Linked DNA regions of Homo sapiens: region 2 is linked to region 1. Evidence: fine-mapped QTL for protein levels in blood plasma. A gene starts in region 1. The other region holds a variant in brackets. All regions are shown on one strand. Distances are from middle to middle.

Region 1 (14,688 bases):
GGCGTAAATGACGCTCCACATGTAGCAAGACTCCGTCCAGGGAAGTGACCACAGCTGCACATGTCATATACACTTGACATCCCAACAGTGTTATACATCACTCCCAATAGTGCAGACTAAACACCAGGGGTTATTACTTCATTCAGGAGGAAACGCAGACTTAGAACAGATGATTACAGTTATCACCAAATATTCAATAGCTCTGTCAATACATAAATTGATCACTATGAAACAGGCCCAAGCTGCCACAACAGTGGCTCTGGAAACCAACCCCAAGGAAAACATGACAGAATTTCTGGTCAGGCGCGCCTCCCAATACTAAAAGGGGTTTTTGGGCATAGACAGGCGGGAAGGAGAAGGGTGTTAGTTCTCAATGATTTCCTGGAAGAATGATTGTTTCCCTTGGACTTGCCCGGACTAGTCAACCTGTGGGTGTGGCTTCTAGCCAGCACAGCATTGCCATATGCAATACAGCATACTTGGTTACATCTGGATTTCAAATACACAATGACTATCTTCATAGATGTATGTCCCATGCACTATTTGTTCATGCGATAGTGGGGACCTATTTATACTAAAAACAATTATTTGTTTTTCATCTGAAATTCAAGTTTAACTGGGTGTCCTGTACTTTTATCGGCTCAATTCGGCAGTGCTCTGAAGTCATGTCTTATCTGATTCAGAGGAGATGAGGGTAACCATTATCTTAATGCTTGCTTGAAGCACACAGAGGAGTTTTACAAAGAAAACAAATGGATCCTTTCCTCGTATACAGAGGATTTCTTTAAATAGAAATTTAAAGCAAAAGATAACTCAGTTGGATAAGGTGAAGAATTTGCTGACCGTCATGAGTCAACACTGGAATGAATTTCTACGTGATGCTAAGAAGAACTTTAGAAGAATGTGAGCAAGTCCCCTGCCCTGGACAGCCTAAGCTGCTACTGAAATCAATACCATTATGGGTGAATTTTGAAGATGATTACCGCTAATATTCACAGCCTACAAATAAGGCCACAGAAGCTCATAAAAGCCGAGTAACCTACCCCAGGTCACACAGCAAAGAGAAGTAGCAAGTAATAAGGTCAGGGGTAGGATAGGGTTAGACAGAGCTGCAGAGGGAGGTCTGGATGCCTCTGGTCTGGAAATACTAGTACCAGCTGACAAGTATTGATCATTCACCATGCACTCAGCACTTCACCTGAAGTATTCCATTCAATCTGCGCAGATTGTGTGAAGCGGGTATTAGCATGACTTCATTTTACAGATGAGAACGTGGTGAGGAGGGGCAGATGTAAGGCCCAGAGCAGGCAGCTGGACTCCAGGTCCCATGATCTCAGCCACTATAGGACAGCAGAGGGTGCAGCCTGCTGTCCACAGGCCCACTAGAAAAGGAGTCAACATCTGAAAACTGGGACAATTGTCATCTGGATGGGACAGCCAACTTCTCTGGGAAGATCAGGAGAATCAGCCCCTTTAGCCTCTGTTTCCATTCATCAGCTGAAGTCACTACCCCATCACCGTCACGGGGACGCTGGCAGCATAAGCGATAGCACAGGCTCCAGGGTCAGCCCTCCCTCCCGACTGTGTAACCTTGGATGAGCTCTCAGTGTTTCCATAGCACGATTTATAAAATGGGGGTCACAGTAGTGCTACCTCACAGGGTGCTTGTGATTGAAGTGTGATCACCCATTAAAGGCCATAATCCCAGTTGCATGGAACATGGTATGCACCCAATAAACGTCAGCCTCCAAGCACCCACTCTGTGCTAAGAGGGCCGTTGCCATGGTTCCTGAAAATGTGGAACCTTCAAAGCTTCCACTGGCCTGATGAAAGGGCAGGACAGGGGTCCCCACCTCTGGGCAGGGTGACTGGCAGGGGAGAGACCAGAGGCGGAGGCTGCCCCAAATCTGGCAGGTACCTCTCCAGGGCAGCTGTGGTGAGACTAGGAAGGAAGCAGGTGTGGTGGCTTTCAAGAGAGGACAGCTCCAAGGGGTGCAGTAGCGCAGGCCTGTAATCCCAGCACTTTAGGAAACTGAGGCGGGTGCATCACGAGGTCAGGACTTCGAGGCCAGCCTGGCCAAGATGGTGAAACCCCCGTTTCTACTAAAAATACAAAAATTAGCCAAGCATGGTGGCACATGCCTATAATCCCAGCTACTCTGGAGGCTGAGGCAGGAGAATCGCTTGAACCCGGGAGGTAGAGGTTAAAAAAAAGAGAGAGAGAGAGAGGACAGCCCACAGCTAGGACTGCCGGGCCTTGGTGGGAGAGGAGCGCCAGAGAACACCAGGGCCAGAAGGCCCAACAGGGGGCCGGAGGTAGGAGCTGGTTTCCCGGCGAGGGTGCAAAGGTGGTTCTCCGCCTTGTTGATCCACAGGCTGGAAACGTGGGGCCGCCTCCCGGGGGCGAATCCACGCAGCGAATGGAGAATTAGCCTGAGGTAGCCGCACGCCAGGCCCAGGCAGAGGCCGCTGCAGCACCACGTCCCTGCAAGGTCCCGCGCCCCAGCCGTCGGGGTAACAGACATTTCGTCCAGCTGTGCTTGGGCAAGCACCTGGGCTCCTGATTCGCCTCGACCTGGGTCGCTCATCATCTGCACAGCCGAAACGACTTCAGGGCTGGGCTCGGCGCTGGCGGGGCTGCCCCTCCTCCCTGCCCGGCCGCCCTCTACCTTGATGCCAGCCCCGTCACCCACGCCCCGGGCGGCGCTCGCCCCCGCTTTGCGCGCGCGGTGCTCGCGGCCACACGGGGGCGCTGGCGCCCGATGCGCTCCTCCCTGCGCAGAACCCGGAGAACAAAGGGCGCCCCGGGACCTCGGCCTCCCTCACCTGGAGCCACCTGCTTCCCGGGCGCTGCCCCAGCGCCAGGCCAGCATCCGGCCTCCGCGAAGGAGTTAATTTTTGCTCAGCGCTGCTCTTAGAAATCTGTTAAAGAAATCGCTCCCCACTTGATGGTCTTTCTCCCCAGCTTGGGGACACAATACGAGAGCTCTGGGACTCTAAAAGGGTTACTAGGTTTGTGGTTTTACGATGTGTGGGGCTCTGTATTCTCCACTCCCTCCCCGAGTTTACCAGGATCCTGGCAGCATCATTTTTCTCCCCTTTGGTTTATGAAAGTGAACTTCTTCTTTTTTTTTTTTTTTTTTGAGACAGTCTCACTCTGTCAGCCAGGCTGGAGTGCAGTGGCGCAATCTCAGCACACTGCAACCTCCGTCTCCCGGGCTCAAGCAGTTCTGCCTCAGCCTCCCGAGTAACTGGGATTACAGACGTGTGCCACGACGCCCGGCTAATTCTTGTATTTAAGTAGAGCCGGGGTGTCACCATGTTGGCCAGGCTGGTCTCGAACTCCTGACCTCAGGTAATCCGCCCGCCTTGGCTTCTCAAAGTGCTGGGATTACAGGCGTGAGCCACCGTGCCTGGCGAAAGTGAACTTCTTTTCACATTTGGAAGAAGTAGACACACCCTCGGGAAAGAGTGTAGCAAAGGCAGAAATCAAGAGAAAAGAGAAAGAAACGCATCGTGGAAATGAGGTAATTGCAGGGAAAGGTAACTTCCTCACACAGCTCAATCAGCTTTGTCCTAAACTGGCTTCTATTCCCCACCTTCTAAAGAGACCGTGCTCACTGTGTACACAAACCTATGTACATGTGCCTCTTTGCACTTATGCTTTAATTAGGAAATGCTGGAGGAGGCTGAGTTGCAGTCATCAATCAACAAGCATCTATTAAGAGCCTGTAAGGTATAAACACAGCCCCATAAACTGCTCCCACTAGCCAGGTAGTGCCAGGTCCTGGGAATCTAGAGATGGGAGATGCAGCCCCGGCCTTTCTGAGTATTAGCATTTAGTGGTCCCCAATTAACCCCTTTCCACCAAAATTGTTGTCCAAGGTCAGTTTCTGCTAGGCTTTCTTCCATGGACAGGCTATCTTGGTTCAGTAAAGCCTTTCCTCCCTCTGGGCTTGAGGCTGAAAGCACACAGTTGTGAATCTCTGAGGATTTGAGGGAGCAGGAATCCTCGAAGGGAGGAATTTAGGGCCCATAGAAACTCCCACTGAGACCAGGAGCTGCTTCCAGGGGGCCCCAGGATCAGAAGGTGATGGTGCAGACTAAAATCTTTTTTTTTTTTTTTTGAGACGGAGTCTTGTTCTGTGTCCCAGGCTGGAGTGCAGTGTCGCGATCTTGGCTCACTGCAGCCCCCACCTCCTCAGTTCAAGCGATTCTTCCGCCTCAGCCTCCCGAGTAGCTGGGATTACAGGCACATGCCACCATGCACAGCTAATTTTTGTATTTTTTAGTAGAGACCGGGTTTCACCATGTTGGCCAGGCTGATCTCAGACTCCTGACTTCAAGTGATCCGCCCTCCTCAGCCTCCCAGAGTGCTGGGATTACAGGCGTGTGCCACCATGCCCGGCTAAAATCGTTTTCATTGTCAACAGTAAGACCTGTCCCGTGTATCTCCTGCACCGTTCTCCATCTAAGGAGTAGAATTCTTGTCCCTACCTCCACCCTGGTAAGGCAAGATGCCCATTTAGGGCATGGGGAGCAGTCCAGGGGTGATGAGCGGGGGGACCTGGAGAGGGAGAGCAAGAGCAGTTCCTGGGGACTCCTCTGACTAAGGAGGTCTTCTTGGAGGAGGAAGCGGAAAGCAGGGTGTGCTCTCTAGCACAGCCCAATACATCGTCTGCCACGTTGAAAATACCCTATAATACTGCACTCTCCAATGTAGTGGCCTGGCCCCATGTGACTGTTGAGCACTTGAATTGTGGCTGGTGCTACTGAGGAGCTGAAGTCTTATTTAATTTTAATTGATTTAACTTTAAATAATCATGTTGGCTGGTGGTTAACGTTATCAGACAGCATAGCTTCAGGCAGCGATAAGGGTGTGGGTGGGGTGGGAGCAGACGGGATATTGTTGCTAATCTCATCCTCATCTACCCCACCCTGGCTAAAACCACCTGTATAGTTTCTGTCCAGTGAGCTGGGAAACCTCGTTGTGGTGGAAGTGGTCGTGATGTGTGGAGGGTGGGGGTGATTGAAAGGCACGGAGTCACAGCCAAGAAATGACATGCCATAAATTGCCCTTAAATAGCAATGGGCCAGGGATTAGAGGACTTTTCCGGTAGATACTTGTTACCAGTAGGAACAGCACGGTTCCTAGACTATGGTTTCAGAATACTTTGGAGAGGATGTTCACTTCCTGTAACACCAGGGTGGCCTTCAGTGATGGGTGAACCACAAGTTTTCAGCTCCAGGTGGAGGCGGGGAATGTTCAGAGATAGGCCGGAGATCATAGATAAATTTATTTTTAAGATAGAAGGGGGACACTTCAGTTATGCAAAAGAAGGTGAGGCCAAGGTTAGGGGTGGGATGAGGCTTGTTCAGTAACTTGCCTAGACTTGCATAGTTAGCCCTTGACCACGTTGGGATAAAAACTCAGGTCTTGGGGGCCCTGACTCAGTGCTGTTTCTATGGCACCACATTACTTGTCAAAAATACCTTGAGACCTTGGACATTGTAGATGTTACATGCAGCTGGCTTGGCCAACCAGCTAATTGACCTACCAGTTTTCCTTCATAGATTCAGATTGGCAGAAGCCAAAGGTAGGAATGTGTTTGTGGCCACAGGGGTGGCACAAGGGACAGTACTGGGGTCAGAGTCCATAATGCCCTCCACTAGAGTTCCCCCAGGTTTTAATTGTGAAATTGTTTAAACATTAAGAAAGTTGGGTGAATAGTGCAATAAGTAATGTATACTCTCAACTGTATAGTGTCAAGAGTTAACATTTTGCATATTTGCTTTATCTGTGTGTGTTTGTCCTTTTTTTTCCTGAGCCACTTGAAAGTCAGTTGTAAACATCAAGCCATTTAATCCTTTAAACTTTGGCATGGATCTCATAAGAATACAGAAAATTTCCTACAAAGCCAAGCTGTCATAATCTTATGTAAGTGAATTAACAACAATCTCTAATATTCAATCTCTAATATTAATATGATCTCCTATCTGGACAATATTAAAATTTTCCCAATTATCCCCCCCCCCACTTTTATAGTGATTTCTGCTTTTGTTTAATTTTTTTAAAAACACAGAATGCATTCAAGTTTCCCAAATTGCCCTTCCGTTGCATTTTGGGCAACAAACCCGATTACTCATTTGTAAACTGCAAATGTGTCGCAGAGTTTTAAGTCTTAATTTCTCAAATGCAAGTCTTAGTAATTCTTAAAAATTTTTCACTTCCACTTGTTATTGACAATAGTCGTTCTGTGAACCACAAATTGCTCCTTTATTCCTCCCCTATTTTGAAGACTATGCAGATTCAGCAGATGAAACTGTAGGTGTGTGAAAGAGGTGTCTAACAAGCGTATGCACCTAAACTTGAAGGCTCTTTGAAATATTAACAACAATAATAACCCTTACAGAAATCCTTCTTGGAGCACTTGAAGGAGGAGAAGTGAGCTGAACTCATGGTGAGTGGGTAATTGTTTTCTGGAAATAGTAACAGTTTCAGAGGCAATGAATGCTACTTGAAATATCTCCATTCTGGCCGGGCGCGGTGCCTCATGCCTGTAATCCCAGCACTTTGGGAGGCCAAGGTGGTTGGATCACCAGAGGCCAGGAGTTCAAGACCAGCCTGGCCAACATGGTGAAACCCTGTCTCTACTAAAAATACAAAAATTAGCCACGTGTGGTGGCGGGAACCTGTAGTCGCAGCTACTTGGGAGGCTGAGGCAGGAGAATCGCTTGAACCTGGAAGGTGGAGGTTGCAGTCAGCTGAGATTGCGCCACTGCACTCCAGCCTGGGCAACACCTGGGCAAAAGAATGAGACTCTGTCTCAAAAAAAAAAAAAAAGAAAGAAAGAAAGAAAGATGTGGAATCCCCTAGAAAGAGCCAATTGCCTGGCATTGGATGGGTGAGACTCACCTGCCATGGTGGACTTGTACTAGTGGCCATTGTAACCCCAGCTGAGTCAGGAACACAGACTTTTCTGGGTTTTGCTGCCATTAACCAGAGGGGTGACTTTGAGCCCATCATCCCTCTGTGTGCCCTGCTTTCTTCCCCTGTAAAATCCAGGGGTCATACTTGATGCGCTGTCATAGGTTTGACATGCACTTCTTCACCTTTAGGCCTGGTCTCCTTCGGAAGAACAACCTGTGCCGTTCAAGTCACTCAGAAATTCAAGAAATGGTTAGAGCAGGGCAGCCTTTATTCAGATGTCCCTAGTGGTTTTCAAGAAGCTCTTTCCTTGGGAACAGAGGTGTCTTTGCTATCTCTTAGCTATTTAATAGGGTCAAAGAGGATTCAATGAACTGGGATGTGACAAGCACTTAGACATTTTTATTTGTATGGTCCTCATGGTATTGAGAAACTCTTTGGCACATGGGAAGGTTACGTGTTTTCTATGATTATTCTTAGCCATATACAGTGGTTTGTTCACCCTTATATGTGGTTCTCCTAGTAGGAAAAGTGTCTTCTGCCTGGCACTGTCCTTGCCTCCCCCTGGACCGCTGCTGGGGAGCAGTGGGCACTGATGGGCATTGTGACGCCTCCTGTTTGGATGTTTTTTCCTACGCTTACACACTATGAGAAAGTTTAATTTCTAAATTAGGCACAGTAAAGTATTAATAATAGGCCAGGCACGGCGGCTCATGCCTGTAATCCCAGCACTTTGGGAGGCTGAGGCGGGTGGATCAGTCAAGGTCAGGAGTTTGAGACCAGCCTGGCCAACATGGTGAAACCCCGTCTCTGCTAAAAATACAAAAATTAGCCGGGCGTGGTGGCAGGCACCTGTAATCCCAGGTACTTGGGGGGCTGAGACAGGAAAATCTCTTGAACCCGGGAGGTGGAGGTTGCAGTGAGCCGAGATGGCGCCACTGCACTTCAGCCTGGGTGACAGGGCGAGACTCTGTCTCAAAAAAAAAAAAAAAAGTATTAATAATAATAAACTAATTAAAAAAGGACAGTTATAATAAAAGTTATATGAATATGGTCTCTCAATTAAAATATCTTATTGTACTATGCTCACCTATTTTCAGACTGCAGCTGAACTCAGGTAACTGAGGGTAACTGAAACCATGGCAAAGGAAACTGCATATCAGGGTGGACTACTGTGTATGGATAGTAATCCTCAAGAGACTTGCTCGTGTGTCAAAGTTTCTCCAAACCATGAGGACCACCTGAATAAAAATGTCTAAGCGAGGCTGGGCATGGTGGCTCACGCCTGTAATCTCAGTGCTTTGGGAGGCTAAGGAGGGAGGATCACTTGAGGCCAGGAGTTTGAGACCAGCCTGGGCAACATAATGAGACCCCTGTCTCTACAAAAAATACAAAAATTAGCTGGGCATGGTGGTGCATGCCTATAGTCCCAGCTACTCAGGAGGCTGAGGTGGGAAGCTTGCGTGAGCTCAGGAGTTGGAGGCTGCAGTGAGCTGTGATTGTGCCACTGCCCTCCAGTCTGGGTGACAGAGAAAGATCCTGTCTCAAAAAACCGAACCAAACCAAAACAAAAACAATTAAGTGCCGGGTGCGGTGGCTCACGCCTGTAATCCCAGCACTTTGGGAGGCAGGTGGATCACTTGGTGAAATGCCATCTCTACTAAAAATATAAAAAAATTAGCCGGGCGTGGTGGCAGGCGCTTGTAGTCCCAGCTACTTGGGAGGCTGAGGCAGGAGAATCACTTGAACCCAGGAGGCAGAGGTTGTAGTGAGCCAAGATCACGCTACTGCACTCTGGATGACAGAGCAAGACTCCATCTCAAAAAAAACCAAAAAACAAAAACAAAAACAAAGGCAAAAACAAAACAACCAAAAAAACCCGAACAAATAAAAAAACAAAAACAAAGAAAAACTAAGTGCTTGTCACGTCCTAACTCATTTCATCCTCTTAGTGATCCTATTAAAGATCTAGGAGAGGCCGGGTGCGGTGGCTCACGCCTGTAATCCCAGCACTTTGGGAGGCCGAGGCGGGTGGATCACGAGGTCAGCAGTTCAAGACCAGCTTGGCCAAGATGGTGAAACCCCATCTCTACTAAAAATACAAAAAATTAGCTGGGCGCGGTGGCAGGCACCTGTAGTCCCAGCTACTCAGGAGGCTGAGGAAGGAGAATCATTTGAACCCTGAGGGTGGAGGCTGCAGTGAGCCGAGATCGTGCCACTGCATTCCAGCCTGGGTGACAGAGTGAAACTCTGTCTCAAAAAAAAAAAAGAAAAAAAAAATCCAGGAAATAAGAACCATTATTTTCCCCATTTTACAGCTGAGAAAATGGAAAACTCAGATAACTCAAGCAACTGGCCTGAGGTAACACAGCGTTTGTTTGTTTGTTTGTTTGTTTTTTTTGAGACGGAGTTTCTCTCTTGTTACCCAGGCGGGAGTGCAATGGCACGATCTCGGCTCACCGCAACCTCTGCCTCCTAGGTTCAAGTGATTCTCCCGGCTCAGCCTCCTGAGTAGCTGAGATTACAGGCATGTACGACCATGCCCAGCTAATTTTGTATTTTTAGTAGAGACGGGGTTTCTCCATGTTGGTCAGGCTGGTCTTGAACTCCTGACCTCAGGTGATCCACTTGCCTCGGCCTCCCAAAGTGCTGGGATTACAGGTGTGAGCCACCATGCCAGGCCTTTTTTTGTTGTTTTTTGAGAGGGAATCTTGCTCTGTCACCCAGGCTGGAGTGCAGTGGGGCGATCTCAGCTCACTGCAACCTCAGCCTCCTGGGTTCAAGCGATTCACATGCCTTAGCTTCCAGAGTATGTGGGATTACAGGCATGCGCCACCACAAGCGGCCAATTTTTGTGTTTTTAGTGGAGACGGCATTTCACCATGTTGGTCAGCCTGGTCTCGACTTCCTGCCTTCAAGTGATCCGCCTGCCTCGGCCTCCCAAAGTGCTGGAATTACAGGCGTGAGCCACTGCGCCCGGCCACAGGTCACAAAGCTATTGAGTAAAGAAAGCTGCATCCAGCCTCTCACCTTAAGAAAGCCATTCCCCTTTGCCTCAAAGTGAGGCTATACTTCCAGAAGGACTTTGTCTCCGGGGAAGCCTTGGCTTTGGAATTCAGGCCCAGTTCTAAGTTTAAAATCATTGATGCTGTTCAGTAGTGGGATCAATGATTTTGCTTCACTTAAATGCCACAAGCTCCCTGAAGATGGGCTGGAGCTGTCACAGCATCCAGCCCCTCCCCTTACCCAGAAGTAAATACTCTTATCATAGTCCTCCGACTATTCTATATCCTTCCATTTGAGTGCTTCTTTTATGCCGAGGGCACTATTGAGATGTAGCTTAGAGAATGAAATTCCTGGTGTTGCAGGGAGCTCAGATCCACCCGGGAAGGTTCATGAGCACTTCATGTCAGCAGCCTTTATTTCATCTAACGTTTCCATAGAGTGAAGGAACAGCCACCCATTACAAAACAAATTATTAAAAGAAAAATTCCAAATCTTCAAAGGAGAGAGGCCCATGGTAGTGAGCGCTCCCACCCCCTTCTCCTTTCTCTTCCCATCACCAACGGGCTAGCAGCACAATTTGTTTCTTGAAACTTTTGGGGGCATCGGAGTTCTGGTGTCCTCATTTTTCTTCCTTCCCATTGATGTATCATTACTAGAGTGAAAAAAGAAGGGCGTCTCGAGGGCTTTTGAAAAAAAAAAAGGGTGACTACTCAAGACATTTTGTAAAGGGGGGAAAATTGCGAAGAAAAGAGACCTCAGTAGGGGGTGGAGGAACTGTGAATGTGTCCTTGTCTGGCGGTTCTTTCAGCTGAAACCTGGTGCTGGCGTTCGCAGTTCAGTTCAAACTGTCACCTTTAGTTCTTACTGGCTTTTCTGCCCTTGCCCCAGAACCTCAACAGATTGGGGCTTATTTACCTATTCACACTCCGCCGTGGAAGCTCATTAATAGGCTTTATTAGCAACACCATTCATGGGAGGCCATTGACGAAAGGGGTTCCAGCCACTTGAAGAGGGAAGAGAAAAGAAAAAACTGTAAAGAGATTATTTTCTCATTCAGAAGCCTCAGTGGTGTGAAGGTTTTCCTGGATGGTCTGAGGTCACTTGAAGACTAAATATGGGGACATAATTGATTTTTTAAAAATAATTCTAAACATACTTCCCCCCCCTCCTCAAAACTGAAGAGTTTCCTGTTGTGGTCTTGTGGGTTTCAGTCCCTTATATATGAGCCCTCTTTAGGGAATAAGGAGCTTTTGATAGATTGGTGTCTTTTCATTTCTATAAAAAATACATTCTGCAAACTGTGCCTGGACATGAAAGTAGGTGTTCTTATTTGTCATTTTCAGCGGAAAGCTTCCTTTCCATTCAACATGCATAAAGCTATTGATGAATGGGGGATAGGGACAGCGGCTTCCTGCACCATTAATTTATGTGAGAATGTGTTAACAGCATTTTCAATGGCTGATGGATGCGGTGTAGGATGGGAAAGGAACTGTCCTGAGACACTCGAGTTTCCCATTGGTGGGGAATATAAAGATGTAAGTGGCAACCTGCGAGCAGGCAGACACGTTCAGCTGCATCCCTTTTCTGAGAACTTGAAAACATACTGCTATCAGAACAACCCGTGTGGGAGTGAATGGCTAAGTGTCAACCTGGGCTGAGGTGTCCGTTAATGTATAGGCTCTGGGGCTAATCCAGGTTAGAGGACTTGACCAAAAACATACCCTCCCACCAAGCATATAGAGGGATAATTTTGCTTAAGAACCAGTTTTTATTTTGTTGCTATCAAATTTCCAAAATACAATGTTATAGCCTTTTGCCTGAGGCAGTTAAATGGATTTCTTACTTGTGTGGCTTTTAAATAACTTGCATAAACGTTTTCTGTGCTATATTTGTGAATAAAAATGATTTTCTAATCATGTAGCACCTTGAAAAATATTTTTGTAAATGTTATGAAGGGTGCAATGTTAGTGACACAGGTGCAAATATGTTTCTAAATCCAGGAAAAGTCTGTTTTCCAAGTCAGGTTTGTTCTCAATGCTTCATCTATCTTCAGGCCTCAAAAGGATTCTAAAGCATTTCTGGGTTTAGTGACCTTTTCTAAAGAAAAATAATTAAGGTTTTAATCTATATGGTCTTGAACTTAAGCACGGCTGCTCAGGAGCTGGATGAATAAGGAGGGAGAAAAAGCATATTTAAAATAAATTATTCCGAAGACACGGCTTAGTGAAAAGGTAAATGGACATAGGAACTTTAACCAGTTACAGCTTGGTGTGCAGTTGAAGAATCAGATTTTGCATTTATGATTTTTAATCTAAGATTCAGAGGGAGGAATTACTTTGTTCAAGGTCTATTTATGGTAGAGTTGTCTTTAGACTCCTTTGAATTTCTTTTTATTAATCCAAACATATATTATTAAACACTTTTTTTTTTTGATGCAATTTTGGCTTTTTCTGAGAGAGCCACATTCAAAGTCAGGCTGTCCTAGTAGCCAGCTGTGTGGTCCTAGGCAAATTACTTAACCTCTCTGATCCTGTTTCCTTATCAGAAACTGGGAATAGTACTCTGCAGGGTGGTTGGGCAGATGAAATAGAATCACCTATGTAGTGTGACCCTCCCATAGTAGGGCCTCCATTAATATTCAGTTTTTTCCTCTCATTTCTATTGTTTAGAAGGACAGAAACATGCAATGTCCTGCGAACATTTCCAAGTGGCTTCCTCTCCTCCAAAAGCTTCAGCTGCCTGGCAACCCTCCCCGCAGTATCAAGCAGGCGCATTTTAAAGTCTCTTTAGCGGGAGGGCAGGGTTAGAGCCTTCGGTCATTTGTTTTCTAACTTGACATAAAACAACGTAACGCAGTCGCTCAGCGAGCCGTTGGCCAGCCTCGCTCGCCCGGGGAGGAGGGAGGAGGTGGCGCGGGGCGCGGGACCAGGCCTTATTCGGAGGCTGTCGCTGCATCCCTACGGCCGCATCGCGGCCGAGCCCTCGCCTCCCGGGCCGGTGTCTCCGGCTGCTCGGAGGCGTCGGGAGCCGCGCGGGACTCGGGGCGGCCCGGGCGCGCGGCGCTGATTGGCAGAGAGGGCGCCGCCGTCCAGGAAACGGCTCGGGTTTCAGTGGGGGCGTGACCCGCCGCGAGGAGGCGGGGGCGGCGGCGGCGGCGCGGGCGGCGGCTGGAGGAGAGCGCGGTGGAGAGCCGAGCGGGCGGGCGGCGGGTGCGGAGCGGGCGAGGGAGCGCGCGCGGCCGCCACAAAGCTCGGGCGCCGCGGGGCTGCATGCGGCGTACCTGGCCCGGCGCGGCGACTGCTCTCCGGGCTGGCGGGGGCCGGCCGCGAGCCCCGGGGGCCCCGAGGCCGCAGCTTGCCTGCGCGCTCTGAGCCTTCGCAACTCGCGAGCAAAGTTTGGTGGAGGCAACGCCAAGCCTGAGTCCTTTCTTCCTCTCGTTCCCCAAATCCGAGGGCAGCCCGCGGGCGTCATGCCCGCGCTCCTCCGCAGCCTGGGGTACGCGTGAAGCCCGGGAGGCTTGGCGCCGGCGAAGACCCAAGGACCACTCTTCTGCGTTTGGAGTTGCTCCCCGCAACCCCGGGCTCGTCGCTTTCTCCATCCCGACCCACGCGGGGCGCGGGGACAACACAGGTCGCGGAGGAGCGTTGCCATTCAAGGTAATCGCCGCGCAAGACGCCTCGGGGAGCTTCGCCAGCCGGGGACGTGGGCGCCACGGGAGCCCGGGACGCCGGGTGCACCGTCCTCCGGGCGGGGGGCGCGGAAGGACTAGCATTGTGGAGGACGCTCCGTGTCCTCCCTCTGTGGCTGCATAGGTGATGGGGGAGGTGGGTGCGTGCTGACGGCCGGCGTTCTGGAAGTTCTGCCTCTGCTACCCCCATCCAGATGCTGACATCTGCTTCTGGCGTTGACGCCCCCCTCCCTGTCAAACCCTGGCGGGCGCATTCCCGCTGACTGGGCGCGTTTCTCCGACCCCAGAGCAGACGGGCGGAAGGTTCGCCTGCCCGTGGCACAGCCCCGCAGGCCGGTTCCCGGGGTCATCTCCGAGGTGCCCCATCCGTGTGTCCTGGGAACTTCCGTACCATCCAGGCCCTGCGGAGACCCCTTTTTCGGGAGGGGGCCGCTGGGGTGGGGCCGGTGACATCCCGTAGGGGTGGCGATGGCCAGGGGTGGCACTGCTGGGGAGGCGACGGCTCCGGTGCCTGGGCGCCCCTCGCCCGCAGCCGCCGTCGGCGCTGGAGGGAGCGCAGTGCGCCTGGGGCTAGGGGGCGAACTGGACCGACTTTTTCTAGTTCGCCTGCCTGCTCTGCCGCAGCGGCTGGGAGATGTCGAAAGCGCAGGCGAGTTCTAACTTGCGCGCTCATTTTTTTCGGCCACGGGGCCGCGCTGGGGAAAAAAGCCGAGGGCCCTGCGTGGCGCTGGCTCCGACCCTCGCGGACCACGGACCTGGCGCAGGAGGCCCGCTCGGGGACCACCAGCCTCCGTCGCTCTCCTCGCACCCCGCTCCCTTGCAGACCGTTCTCCAGACCCTCCTTCCTTTCTCCCAATTCAATAAAACCTACCCTTAAAGGCAAACCTGCTTTCAAACTCAGGGCACCCATTATGTGTTTGGTGTGAAACGCTATCAACATTTAAAACTCCATTGTCTCCCTGGTCCCAAATCCCTGTAAATCTTCCACCGGGCTCGACTCATTTTCATCTGAAAAGCCTGTTTAGTTTGAATAGAAAAGCAATCAGGCGCCCCTCTCTCTTTCCCT
Region 2 (13,888 bases), 32 kb after region 1:
AATATCAGCTACTCTCAAATGTGTTGGATGGATGAATAGTAGAAGGTATTTTAAGAAGCCACAGGCCTCTTTGTAAATTAAACAGGCATCATACATGGGTGTTGATAATGATGAATCTCACAAAATCTTCAGATGTTTAGTCTCTGGGAACATTCCAGGAATCCTCATTTAGGTAACTTATATGTGATGAGACCTATTTGTTCACTTGAAAGAAAACCTGTTTTGAAGTCAGAGGAATGCGAATAGAGGCTCTCACATGGTTGGAAAAAGCAATCTGCAGGCCAGTTACGCCCCGTAAACAGGAACCCAGGACTGCCCTCCTGGCCAGGGCTGAGTTGCAGGATGGGGACCCCCCACTACCTCCAACCGCCCGCCAGGATGAGGAGTGCTTGCTCTCAGACGTGCCCCTCACTTTAAATATACAGAGGCCTTCCTAGGCAGCCTTTGATTGTGTCCTTGTGGTGACCTTGCCCTGCAGCAGGCAGCACTGGAGATGTTTTTCTCTTCTCTAAAGCATGACTCTGAGGCTCAGCGGTGTGAGGCTGTCCAAGCTGACACGTTCACTACTGGCAGAGGCGGGTCTCAAAGTCTCATCCTTGGACACTGGAGCTGAACTTCTTGTAGTGTGGGTCTTGGACCAGCAGCATCAGGCCTCACCTGTGGGAAATAAAGAATGTCAGCCCGCACCTGCAGGCCTACTGACCCAGAATCTTTTTTTGTTTTTTCCTTTTGAGACAGACTTTTGCTCTTGTTGTCCAGGCTGGAGTGCAATGGCACAATCTTGGCTCACTGCAACCTCTGCCTCCGAAGTTCAAGTGATTCTCTTGCCTCAGCCTCCCGAGTAGCTGGGATTATAGGCTCCTGCCACCAGACCTGGCTAATTTTTGCATTTTTAGTAGAGACAGGGTTTCACTGTGTTGGCCAGGCTGTTCTCTACCTCCTGGCCTCAAGTGACCCACCTGTCTTGGCCTCCCAAAGTGCTGGGATTACAGGCGTAAGCCACAGCGCCCAGCTGACCCAGCATCTTTGGAAGTGGGAGCAAGGAAGCTGTCTTAAACTGACCACGTGGTTTTACGCACAGTAAAGTCTGAGAAACATTGCATTGATCCCTACTCCAGTCCCTCTCCGTACACCTTTTGGGTGGAGTGGGCTGGGGACGCAGACTGTCTTTGGCTGTGCATGTCCTAGAGGCTGAACAGGACGAGATGGGAGCAGTGCAGTGTCTTAATGGGAATCGGGATTTTCACGGAGGAGCTGTTGGAACTGGGCTGAATAGGAGCCTGCCAGGCAGCAGAGCTGGGTGGGCTTGTAGGTAGAGGGAACAGTGCCCATGTGGACAGGTAAGCCAGAGTGTCAGAGAGAGGGATGTGGGGCTTGGAGCAACCAAGCCTCAATGCGCCATGATGTTCTTTGGGTTTTATTCTCTCTGACTTTGGAGTGGTCTGTGCCTTTTTAAAAGAGTAGAGATCATGTGCTTTTCAGAAGATTCCTCTGGGGGTCTGCGGTGGCTACAAGAGGCGCACCATGGGTGATGGGTTAGGCGCATTGCAGAGGTCTTGTGGAGGACTGGAGGAGACCTGTGGGATGCAGTTTTGCCTGTACTTTCTTTCAGAGCTAAGCTTTCTATCAGGGATAGGCCTAATAGGTGAAGGGGTGTGGGGACTGATCAGAGGAAGGGCCAGAGGAAAAGAGGGGCTTCAGGGCCGACTTGGAGCTTGGGCGGCAGTTCAGTGGTGTGACTCCCTTCATCGTGTAAGAGAAGAGGCTGGTGGAGGAGGAGGAGGTTGAAGGTCACTTGCTTGTTTTGGATACGACCTCTGTAGACATCCAGGTTATGTATTTCCTCCCCCCGGGCAGGTGGAAATATGAACCTACAAGCAGGGACTTGAGTGGCATCTGCGGGGAGGAGGTGGGAAAAGCCACACGTGCCCAGGAGACTGGAATGCAGGGAAAGGACCAGAAGAGCCAGAGGTAGAATTCTGGGTATATCCATGGATACAGGAGGGGTGGCAGGGAAGGAGAAATTTCCTAGAAAGGCGAGAAGTCCTCCTTGACATGTTCCTGTCCATAAGAACACATACGCACATGTACGCACCAGCAGGAAGCAGAATGCTAACCGAAGATAATTAACCCCCAATTCTGTGTTAGGGATTGAGAAATAGACCAGGAGCCCTGCCCCCTCCTCTCTCATTTCCTGACCTTCCACACTGAGAAGACCTGGCTAGGCAGCCTTGCTTTTTTTCCTGTTTAGCGGAGGAGTGAGGATTTCAGCCGGAAGGTCTTTCTGATGGCAGATGTGTAAGTGCCAGACATTGTGCTGGGTGCCTTCTGTGTCCTATCTCATTTATTATTGTTCCTGCTCCGAGGACTTGCCTCAAGGTCATACGATTTGTAAGTGGCATAGTCTCGGTGTCAGTGACAGGTCTGTTTGGTGTCTCTCTCTCTCTCTCTCTCTCTCTCTCTATATATATATATATATATATTTTTTTTTTTTTTTTTTTTTTTTTGAGATGGAGTCTCGCTCTGTCATCCAGGCTGGAGCACAGTGGCGTGATCTTGGCTCACTGCAACTTCCGCCTCCCAGGTTCAAGCGATTCTCCTGCCTCAGCCTCCCGAGTAGCTGGGACTATAGGCGCCTGCCACCATGCCCAGCTAACTTTTGTATTTTTAATAGAGATGGGGTCTCCCCATGTTGGCCAGGCTGGTCTCGAACTCCTGACCTTGAATGATCCACCTGCCTCAGCTTCCCAAAGTTCTGGGATTACAGGCATGAGCCACCATGCCCGGCCTTGGTCTGTACCTTTAACACCCCCAGCCTTTTCTGAAGAGTCACCAGAGAAGGGACAAAAATGAGGCCATAGCCTTACTGCTAAGGGACCATGAGAGGCTTGGGGTATAGCTGTCTGTTGAGACAGGTGCTTTACTACTTTGTAAGATGAAGAGAGCTGCCTCTGGCTGAGCACTGTCATTAGGACTCAGGGAATGGAAGTGTTTTGAGACCAGAGGGTTCAGTTTCAGGACTGGAGATCACAATGCATTCATTTTACAGAGTGACAACTCTGTAGGGCCACTCTTCACCCTAAGATTGGGTCATTAAAGGCCAGGCACATCCTATTCACTCCTTCACCTCCTTGTGAGCCCCCCACATGCCTTTTGATGAAAGGGTTTTCCCCAGAACAGTGTGTCCCAAGAAGCCCTGAAGGGCTGGAGATGTACCAGCTTTCTCTGCTATGTCCAGCAAGTGTATTTTCAGAAGGTAGGAGGCTCGGGCTGGGCTGGCCAGGCAGCCAGGCACACAGACTCCTCATTGTACATCCAAGCCGGGGCGTGCAGGACTTCAACATAGCTTGTAACGTAAGTATCTATTTCCTGGGCGCTACATGATCTAATGGCCTGTCGCTTTGGGAAATGCTTTCTGAACAAAAGACTCGATTTATTTATTTATTTATTTTTTGAGACGGAGTTTCGCTCTTGTTGCCCAGGTTGGAGGGCAGTGGCGTGATCTCGGCTCACGGCAACCTCCACCGCCCAGGTTCAAGCGATTCTCCTGCCTCACCCTCCTTAGTAGCTGGGATTACAGGCGTGTGCCACCACGCCCGGCTAATTTTGTATTTTTAGTAGAGACGGGGTTTCTCCATGTTGGTCAGGCTGGTCTTGAACTCTCCTGACCTCAGGTGATCCACCCTCCTTGGCCTCCCAAAGTGCTGGGATTACAGATGTGAGCCACTGCGCCCGGCCTTTTATTTTTTTAAATTATTATTATTTTTATTTATTTATTTATTTTTTTGAGATGAAGTCTCGCTCTGTCACCCGGCTGGAGTGCAGTGGCACGATCTCGGCTCACTGCAACCTCTGCCTCCCTGGTTTAAGCGATTCTCCTGCCTCAGCCTCCCGAGTAGCTGGGATTACAGGGGTGCACCACCATGCCTGGCTTAATTTTTGTATTTTTAGTAGAGATGGGGTTTCACCATGTTGGCCAGGCTGCTCTTGAACTCCTGACCTCAGGTGATCCACCCGCCTCGGCCTGCCAAAGTGCTGGGATTACAGGCATGAGCCACCGCACTCGGCCAGGACTCAATTTTGAAGTTCTTATGCAAGCAAAGCTGCCCATATCTAGGAGTTTATGCACACAGTACTGATTCAATACCTGCGTCTTAGTGGTCCATCAGGAATTTTTCACTCATGAAATATGACTTTAATACACGTGTTGGGACCAGAGAGAAAACCTTCCCTCTGTGCATCTTTTTTTGGAGAACACTGTCATGAACAGCCGAAAACATCAGATCAAAAGCAAGAGGGATACTGACAAAACAGGGAGTGCGGATTTCCACTGTGGGTGGGGACATTGGGAGACACGGTGACTCACTCCTCAGTAAGTGCATTCTTAGGCTCTTTACTCTGTGTGCATTTTTATTTTCTCATGGGCAACAATATAATTTCTTTCAAACATGAAGAGCCATCCAGCATGTTTCTCAAAGGCAGACTTAAATGATATGAGGGGTGTGCCTAAATATATAATTTTTAATGGTTACCATATTGGAAACATTAGCCATGATCCCATCTGATGACTAGGAACATGAGCCAGTCTGGAGTTTCTGGAGAAATCCAGCTACCGCTGCAGAGGCGGCTGTTAGCTGTTGTTACCGGCATCCTTGTTAGCGACCAGGGAGGTTTCAGTCCCGACTTGTGTCTACCAGACACCCTGACAACTGGTTAGAAAGAGAGGACTGCACCCTTTCATCCTGCGTACTTATCTGTTGTTTGTTGCTTTGACTTCTTTTTGTTCTCCGTTTTTATGTTGGCAGTATTTCTCGAGGTAGAGAACTTTCACCTTTATATTGTGCGGAGTATTTGTCCCTTCCTCGCCCCCTTAAAGAACACGTAGTACCTATGCCTTATAAGGTCTCTGTTTGATGTGAGGAATTTGGTCTTCTTGCAAGTCGGCTCTTGCAGAGGGGAGGCTTTGAGGATGTCTGGGCTGCAGCAGGCTGTCTTCGTTGCTGTGTACACAGCCCTCATGGCAGGGCATGCAAAGGTGGTTGGTTCTGACTTCAATGGCGGGACTCCATTGCCTTTATTTTTTAATTTAATTATTATTATTATTATTATTTTTGAGATGGAGTTTAGTTCTGTCACCCAGGCTGGAGTGCAGTGGTGCGATCTGGGCTCACTGCAACCCCCGCCTCCCGGATTCAAGCAATTCTCCTGCCTCAGCTTCCCGTGTAGCTGGGACTACAGGCACACACCACCATGCCCATCTAATTTTTGTGTTTTTAGTAGAGACGGGGTTTCGTCTTGTTGGCCAGGCCGGTCTCGAACTCCTGACCTCAAGTGATCCACCTGCCTGGGCCTCCCAAAGTGCTGGTATTACAGACATGAGCCACCGCACCTGGCCTCCATTGCCTTTATTTCTTTCTGCTGATAAGTTCTGATGCCAGTGATACCCAGATTGTGCCATAGGAAAGAGGGGGCTGGGCTCTTCCAGAAACCCTATCTTGCAGAAATCTCTCTTCTGTTCCTACGGACAGAGAATTGGGTATTGACCAGTGAGGACTTCTTACTGGGACTGGGCGTGGCCACTACAGGACATCTTCCAGACTAAGAGGGCCAGTTGGGGGTTACTGGACCAGGGAGGACAGTGGCGGCCACTTACTTGCCATGTGCTTTGTGTGCAGTGACTATGTAGCGACATTTGCAGCCGGACTGTGTTTCTCCTGTAGAGACACTGGCAGCCCTACAGCCCTACAGCCGTGACATTTACTCTGTACAAGGTGGCAGGAGGTGTGGGAGGGCACCGGGAACCGAAGGCCATTTTACTACCCTTCCCGCAGCGCTCCTGTTACAGTGCTTGTGGGAGTCCCAGCTGTGCCTCCAGGTACAAACGGGTTTCTTCCTGCAACCCACAACCCTGACAGGACATGCCTCCCGGGTGTGCTCCTAACCTGCCTCTTCTCTCTGCCCCTCCCTCTTTCTCCTCTCCCCTTCCCCTCTCTTTCTTCCTCTTGCCTTCCTCTTCTTTCCTCTCCCTCCCTCTGTTTCTCTCCCTTCCTTTTCCTTGTCTCCGTCTCTCCTCTCCTTTTTCCCCCTCTCCCTCTCTTTCATCCTTCTGTCTCTTCCAGAGGAGTCTGTTCAGGGATTTCTTTCTCTCTTTCTTCTTCCTGGAGGAATGTGTTTAGGGATTGGACACCTCTGACTTTGGAGGAGGGAGAAACCTCAGTGGGATGGGTTCCAGGACGACCCCACCGCATCCTTGGAACTAGGATGATCTAGACGTTGGAAAAGACACCATCCCTGGGAAACCCCAGAAAAGGCTTAATTTGTGAAAAGTAATGGAGGGAGCTGTGCCGTTGGTAGAAACTGCTTTTTTCTTCCTTAACAGTTTAAATCTGTCGTCCATTCTCCGTGAAGTGATTGGACGGGGCAAGACTCAGGTTTCCCATCTGTTCTCTGTTTGCATTTGGGCGCCATTTCAAAAACCACACGGGAAAAGTTTATAGGCAAACATTATAAAAAGTGACAGTCTGAAGTGCTGCTATCGCTGGTTTGGCAACGTAAAGTGTTACCTGAAATAGCTTACCGTTTCCAAACCCTTTTGCTGTTTCAACTGTCTCAAGACAACCCTCCCGCTGAGATGGGTGAGAAGTCCAGCTGGATGTGTGCAGTGAAGTCACATAAGTCACAGCCTTTTTTGACTTTTACAAGATTTCCCCCTCCTGGGGCTATCTTCACACACAGCGAGGATTTTTTTCTCTCTGTTTACTTATAGAGAGGTAAATTCATGCAGCTTGTGGCTAGTGGCACTCTGTGTGATGTCAAATGGTCTGCTGAGGGGCTCGGAGAGTCAGGCAGCCCCTGCCTCAGTTTCTCTCTCTCCCCAGTCAGAGGTCCTATGAGCTCCCAAGGAATAACAGGATGGTTTTCTTAGGGAAGGAAGGCCAGGTCAAGGCAGGAATTACTCACAGCTCATGTGCAGATGCCTGTTGTTATTCATACTATTTATTTATTTGTGTTTTTTTTTTGTTTGAGACAGTTTCACTCATGTCGCCCAGGCTGGAGTGCAATGGCATGGTCTCGGCTCACTGCAACCTCCACCTTCTGGGTTAAACGATTCTCCTCTGCCTCAGCCTCCCAAATAGCTGGGATTACAGGCACATGCCACCACGCCCAGCTAATTTTTTATATTTAATAGAGATGGGTTTCACCATGTTGGTGAGGCTGGTCTCGAACTTCTGATCTCAGGTGATCCACTCGCTTTGGTCTCCCAAAGTGCTGAAATTACAGGCATGAGCCACTGTGCCTGGGCTACTTATTTATTTTTGGAGACAGGTTCTCGTCTCGCTGTGTCACCCAGGCAGGAATGCAGTGGCGCGATCATAGCTCAGTGCAGCCTCTGGGGCTCAAGCGATCTTCCTACCTCAGCCCCCTGTGTAGCTGGGACTACAGGTGTTTATCATCATTCCCGGCTTTTTTTTTTTTTTTTTTTCATTTTTTGTGGAGAGAGGATCTTACTATGTTCCCTAGGCTGGTCTTGAACTCCTGACCTCAAGTGATTCTCCCACCTCGACCTCCCAAAGTGCTGGGATTGTAGGCATGACCTGCTGTGCCTGGCCCATTTATTTTTTGATTAGCTGTACAAGTACCTGTCTCTCTCATTTTTAAAGTATCAAAACAGTCAATTTTTTTTTTTATTTTTTTTTTGAGATGGAGTTTTGCTCTTGTTGCCCCGGCTGGAGTGCAATGGCGTGAGCTCAGCTCACCACAACCTCCAGCTTCTGGGTTCAAGCGATTCTCCTGCCTCAGCCTCCCGAGTAGCTGGGACTATAGGCATGCGCCACCATGCCCAGCTAATTTTGCATTCTCAGTAGAGACGGGGTTTCTCCATGTTGGCCAGGCTGGTCTCGAACTCCTGACCTCAGGTGATCCGCCCGCTTCGGCCTCCCAAAGTGCTGGGATTACAAGCACGAGCCACCGCGCCCGGCCAGTCGTTTTTGTTTGTTTGTTTGTTTGTTTGTTTGTTTTTAAAGAAGCTGCTTGTGGCCAGGTGCGGTGGCTACCACCTGTAATCCTAGCACTTTGGGAGGCGGAGGCAGGTGGATTGCCTGAGCTGAGGAGTTTGAGACTGGGCTGGGCAACGTGGTAAAACCCTGTCTCTACTAAAATACAACAACAACAACAAAATTCCCAGGCGTGATGGCATGCACCTGTAATCCCATTACTCCAGAGGCTGAGGCAGGAGAATCACTTGAACCCAGGAGGTGGAGCTTGCAGTGAGCCGAGATCGCACCACTGCACTCCAGCCTGGGAGAGAGCGAGACTCCGTCTCAAAAAAAAAAAAAAAAAAAAAAAAGGCCAGGCACGGTGGCTCACGCCTGTAATCCCAGCACTTTGGGAGGCTGAGGTGGGCGTATCACGAGGTGAGGAGATCAAGATCATCCTGGCCAACATGGTGAAACCCACCCCGTCTCTACTAAAAAAAATACCAAAAATTAGCCAGGTGTGGTGGCAGGCTCCTGTAGTCCCAGCTACTCAGGAGGCTGAGGCAGGTGAATAGCGTGAACCCGGGAGGTGGAGCTTGCAGTGAGCCAAGATCGCGCCACTGCACTCCAGCCTGGGCGACAAAGCCAGACTCCGTCTCAAAAAAAAAAAGAAAAAAAAGGCTGCTTGCTAACACGCTGCTGGTACTTCCCAAGTATTTGAAACTTCTGGGAGAAAATTCACGTGGATGCAACTGAGCTTTATGCAGCAGGGCTGCAGTAGTGTGGCCACGGCAGTAGAAACGAGTGTTGAGCTGTGTCCCAGGAAGGAGACTTGGTGCCTTGTTTGTTTACCAGTTTTAGGAAACAGTGACAAAGATTGGCCAATACTACTGTGAAGCTTGCTTGCTTCTTTTCGACTTTTAATTCATATTGTGAAAAATACATGGAAACATATTCTCTGTCTGTGGAAGCCTCTGAAAGAGCATTTGTGCATAGCAAGGCGGCTTCTGGAACCTTCTCCCCATTGCGTTTTGGCAGGAGATGAGGGAGATGTTGGGCTGTGCACCCCTGGTGGATTCGCACAGGAAAGGTGAAAAGTATGCCACAGCAATGGGAAAAAGTAAATCCAGGAAGTGCTCACATGACTATAAAAGGAGTTATGTACATTTCCTGGGGAATTCTTTGCTCTTTCACAGAGCAGGCTGTGCAGCCTGGTGGAGTCAGGGAGAGGTTGTCCATCCATGGGGGGTGACCAGAGTTAGGGAGGCCCCTTTGCACATGCAGGCACAGGGGATTCTCTGATTGTCCTGGCTCCGCGCAGCCTGGGGCCAGGTCAGTACAACTGTGGGGATGAACATGGAGGGCTCAGGGAGTGCATGTTTGCAGGGAGTGGGCAGCGGGTCAGGTCACCTGCAGCATTCAAACCCAGAAGAGAAGCTAAGCCCTGTGGACGGCAAATGGACCCAAGGACACGGGCAGGGACAGAGCTGCTTCCACTGAGCCAGCTGTTAGGTGCTTGTGTTCTTGGCCCCCTGGCCGGGGTTGTCTTTGATATGTGTCGTGTGTGCTGGGCCCTGCAGGCTGGGCTTGGGGGGCCACTGGGTGGCCTGGGAGGCTACCAGTGTGGCATTTGGCCCCTCCCCAGCGTATGGCCCCACCCCATCCCTGCCTCTCTTCTTACTTACATCCTCCTCTTTTTATTCTCCCCAACCTCTTTCTCTCTTGTGTGTTTATTCATGCATTCTCCCTAACATGTGCTTGCAGAGTCTTCTGGGATACCCAGGGGTATTACTGGCATGTTTACTAAAGGCACCGCTGATCCCCAAAATGGGCCCTTTGTGAAATGACCACTGAAGGGGTGGAGGGAGGAGTCCTTGCTTTCTCAGTTTACCAAGACAGCAGTTACTGGTTTGAGACTTTGAAGACAGGATGGCTTGATTTTTATGGATAAACATCATTATCTCATTGGTGTATTTTAGGGGGTGATATTTTACTATCCTTGAAGCTTGGATATCTAGATGACAGTTTTGATCTGGTTTTACTGGGATCAAAAGCAGTTTTAGTACGTCAAGTCATCTTAACTGTCCATTGAGATGGGACTCCTGTAAAATCACTTTGTATCTGGAGATAGCAATCCAAGTGTTCTGGCTGGGCGCAGTGGCTCACGCCTATAATCCCAGCACTTTGGGAGGCCGAGGCGGGCAGATCACGAGGTCAGGAGTTCAAGACCAGCATGGCCAATATGGTAAACGCTGTCTCTCATAAAAATACAAAAAAGTTAGCTGGGTGTGGTGGTGCACGCCTGTAATCCCAACTACTTGGGAGGCTGAGGCAGGAGAATCACTTGAACCTGGGAGGCGGAGGTTGCGGTGAGCCGAGATCGTGCCACTGGATTCCAGCCTGGGTGACAGAGCAAGACTCTGTCTCAAAAAAAAAAAAAAGAAAAGAAAAGAAAAGAAAAGAAAAAGAAACCCAGATGTTCTGTGATTATCCTCTGAAAATCGTGGTGCTTAAAAAATCACGGCAAGCATCTTCCGCCTTGAAGAGTAACAGTAATAGTGACAGTCATTAGCCCGACATGTTGTAGTTGATGATCAGGTTCATCTTCGTTGGCTCATTGGAATCTTACCAATAATAAACCAGTATTTGGGTACTCTTACCCTGCAACAGATGGGGAACACCAGGCCAAAAGGTTAAGCAGGAATGGAGAGGCGTGGGAACTCAGGGCTTCATCCTCTTCTCGTCCAGGGCAGCACCCTTCACCAGGCATCTCCCATGTCCAGCTCCAAATAAGACACAGGTCCTCGCTGTCCCCTGTACTTCCTTCTAGAACAGCACGTGGTAGTCCAGCAGCTCAGATACCCCCAGTTTCAGCAAGATTTTGGGGTTTACTGATTTTAGGTGAAGGAAAGGATTCTCAATGAAAACACTTTCATTTAAAAACAGGAAATCATACATCATAACTCCTCCTTTGCCGGGAGAGAGATTTTTTTCTGCATCACAATTGCAAATGCCTTGCTTATCTTTTTTTTTTCTTTTTTTCCCCCTAATGGAGTCTTAGAGCATTCCTCTGCGTGACATAGGGACATGGTTGCACCTTATCTGAGGGTCAGGATGGAGCAGATTGGTGTGTGGGTCCCAGGTGCCTTCCCTGTGAGGGAGGGAAGCTTTGCTGCTTCTGCTCAGCGGCTGCCCTGGTGATCAATTCTGGCTAAGAGGAAAGTACATTCCATAACATTTCTGGTGACTTGCTGATCATGTGATGTTGTCATAATAGACATTGATCATTTTATGACCCAGACTGATCCAATGTAAATTCATTCTAACATGGTGGGTGCTGTTTCAGCAATGAGTTGTTGGAGACCTGGGACTCAAAGGACATCTGGTCCTTGCCTTAGCCAGCTGTCAAAGGGGTTGGACCAATAGCGTTTGGGGCCCCTTCAGCTCTCATGTTGAGTGAATCTGTGACTCTAGGATGTTGGGAGTGGGAGATGGGCCAAGATTTGGGACCAGACTGAATCCCTGCCGTCTTCTCCTCCTTCTCATATTTCTCTTCCTTTCTTTTTTCTGTTTGGTCTCCATAGTTTAAAGTATTTCTATTAGTCACTCAATTCAGCCGCATTTTGACTTAACCAGCCTTGAGAGACCTGCTCTAAGAGCCTTCAAACTAAGTTCCCAACATCTTTTAAACTTCGCTTTGTCCTTCACTTCTCAGCTCAAATGCCTGTTCTTTGGAGAAGTCTCTCTGATTGTCTTATACAACAGGGATTGAAACACTTTTTGCAAAGGCAAGACTGCAAATATTGTAGGGCTTGCAGGCCACAGGGTTTCTGTTGCAATGACTGAACTCTGCCCTTGTAACACACAAAAGCAGCGCCAGACAATAAGGAATGGGCATGGCCGTGTTCTAATAAAGCTTTGTTTACAAAAACAAGCTGCGGCTGGCTTGGCCCGCGGGCCATCATCCGCCACCTCCTGCCAAGGGACCAGCCCTCCTCTGCCACTGCTGTGTGTGCCCGTACCTTGCCATGTCCTTCTTCCTAATGCTTAAGCAAGAACACTGTATTTTTTGTAGATTTTGTATCTATCGTCTGTCACCCCCACCATAATGGACGCTCCACAAGTGCAGGGTCTTTATCTTGTCTCCTCTTGCTGCGGAGCTTCCAGAATAGGCTTGTTGTATAGTAGACATGCAGTAAATAATTACTGAGTGAGAAAACAAATGTTAGAAACATAACCTGCCCGTCAGCTGGGCTTTCCTTGCTTTGGGGTGCATTTGTCCATGTTACATTTAGCTTCTATTTTCCTCCTTTTGTTGTGATTCTCTCTTTGTGTTCACGTGCTAGTTGGCATCTGGGGCTTGGCATGCATGCCTTTGGTGATGCCCCCTTGAGAAGCCCCGGGCCTCCTGTGTGGCTGTTGATGGTGGTGGTGAGGGGGATTTCTTGTCCCCAATGCATGTGGCCCTTGCTCCTTTCACAGTGGGACTGAAACACAGATTGACTTGATTTCAGTCTCCTGTGGGAGATTTGTTCTTCTGAGGGGTGTCTAGGCAAAACAGTTGCCTTTGATCCTGCCCTGATTTGGTGCTGTCTCAGTGCTGGGAAGCTTTGCATTTTCTAGGCCTGGAACTCTGGGTCCCATTCACACTTCTCACTGGAGGGATGAAAGCCTCCTTCTTGGGCCCTCGTGGCCATCCCAGCTGGCCGCTCCAGCTGTTGTTATTAATAAATGCCAGTGGTGTCCTCTCAACTCCAGTGGAGAGGTTGTGTGGGTTGGATCCTTGTGGGTCCAATCCCGTGCTGCATATCTGGGAACTGTGACCTTGTTTGACATGGCCATGTGTCTGCCAAGCAGGATGGGGTCGGTGGCGGGAAGCACAGAGAACCATGAGACCCACGCCTTTTCTCTAGGGTCTTGGTGTCTCCGTGGGGAGATGGGATGCATTCATGAGAATATGGTGCATCCCATGAGCTGGCAAAGTGGGCAGGTGTATGGTGGAGGGGGAGGGAGCCAGTGCTCTTCCGCCCAGGGGGACTGATGCAAGGTGACTCCCATCACGGAGGACCCTGCTTGATTTGGGTCTTGGAGGGTGGATGACAGGGAAGAGAGGGAGGAAGGACTGTCCCTACAGAAGAAGCCTGGGACATGTGTGGTGGGTGTTGGTGAGCAGGGTGGGACTCAGCTTTGTCGTGTGGAGTCGGGGGCACACAGCACCCAGCGGCTTCATTTCAGGACCCCTGTAAGTGCAACGGAGACTGCCTTGCAGCTGTCTGGGCATTTTGCTCTTTTTGTTTTTGGTGTTAAGGCCTCTAGGCTTTTATCATTTTGGGAAAACAGCAGGTCTCAGCTCACCCAGCACAGAATTAGGTCTCTAAACCGGCAAAGTACTGATCTGAACATGAGAGCTCATGAAAACTCTGGATGGCAAAAAATCTTGTAGAGGGATCCCTTAGTTTTCCTTGAGTTTGAGACATTTCATTTTAAGAAGCTTGGCCTTGGGGCAACAGACCAAGTCTAGCACAAATAATAAAGAGTGTATGTGTGTGTGGCGCACAGTCACGTTTCACGTACAAATGTGTAAAACTCGGCATTCTTACAAATAAAACATACCACAATAACAGATTTTTGCAGGTATTAC[A/G]GTGCAAGCACGCTTTGGCAATCAATTTAAACATTTTCTTGTGGAATATTCTTCCATGCTATGGTTTGGTTTGTTTCTAAAGCCCCATAGGATGTGGAAACTAAGTCAGGACAGATTTTCTGGGGGTATCCTCTGGTTGCTCTTCCAGATACTTCCTGACTTCCTGGGGCTTGGGGAGAGGTGGATGCCTGCTGGGGCCATTTGCAGAGCAAGAACAGCTTCTCCTGGGAATAAGCAGGCCTCCACTGACCTTTGTTGGACGTTCTCTCCT

Evidence for each region. A credible set is the group of variants that fine-mapping cannot tell apart. PIP is the chance, under the fine-mapping model, that this variant and not a neighbour inherited with it causes the effect. Protein levels are from antibody-based Olink assays in UK Biobank. Linkage for the fine-mapping came from a reference panel and not from the study's own genotypes, which makes the PIPs less certain.
Region 2: its variant is the best candidate, but not a certain one, in a credible set for the plasma level of the FGFR2 protein (UK Biobank, PIP 0.53).

What each region holds. Positions count from the first base shown.
Region 1 is chr10:121,596,864-121,611,551 of GRCh38, reverse strand. It overlaps FGFR2 (fibroblast growth factor receptor 2), which reads left to right and starts at 13,108. Exons shown (of 18, transcript NM_000141.5): 1 at 13,108-13,590. RefSeq lists enhancers at 1-1,004, 13,902-14,637, 14,638-14,688 and a silencer at 2,605-2,844.
Region 2 is chr10:121,565,754-121,579,641 of GRCh38, reverse strand. The region is part of intron 2 of FGFR2 (fibroblast growth factor receptor 2); the gene reads left to right. Among named protein-coding and RNA genes, the nearest start is that of FGFR2, 26 kb to the left of the region's middle. RefSeq lists a silencer at 1-27. The variant A/G (reference allele first, on the strand shown) is at 13,618.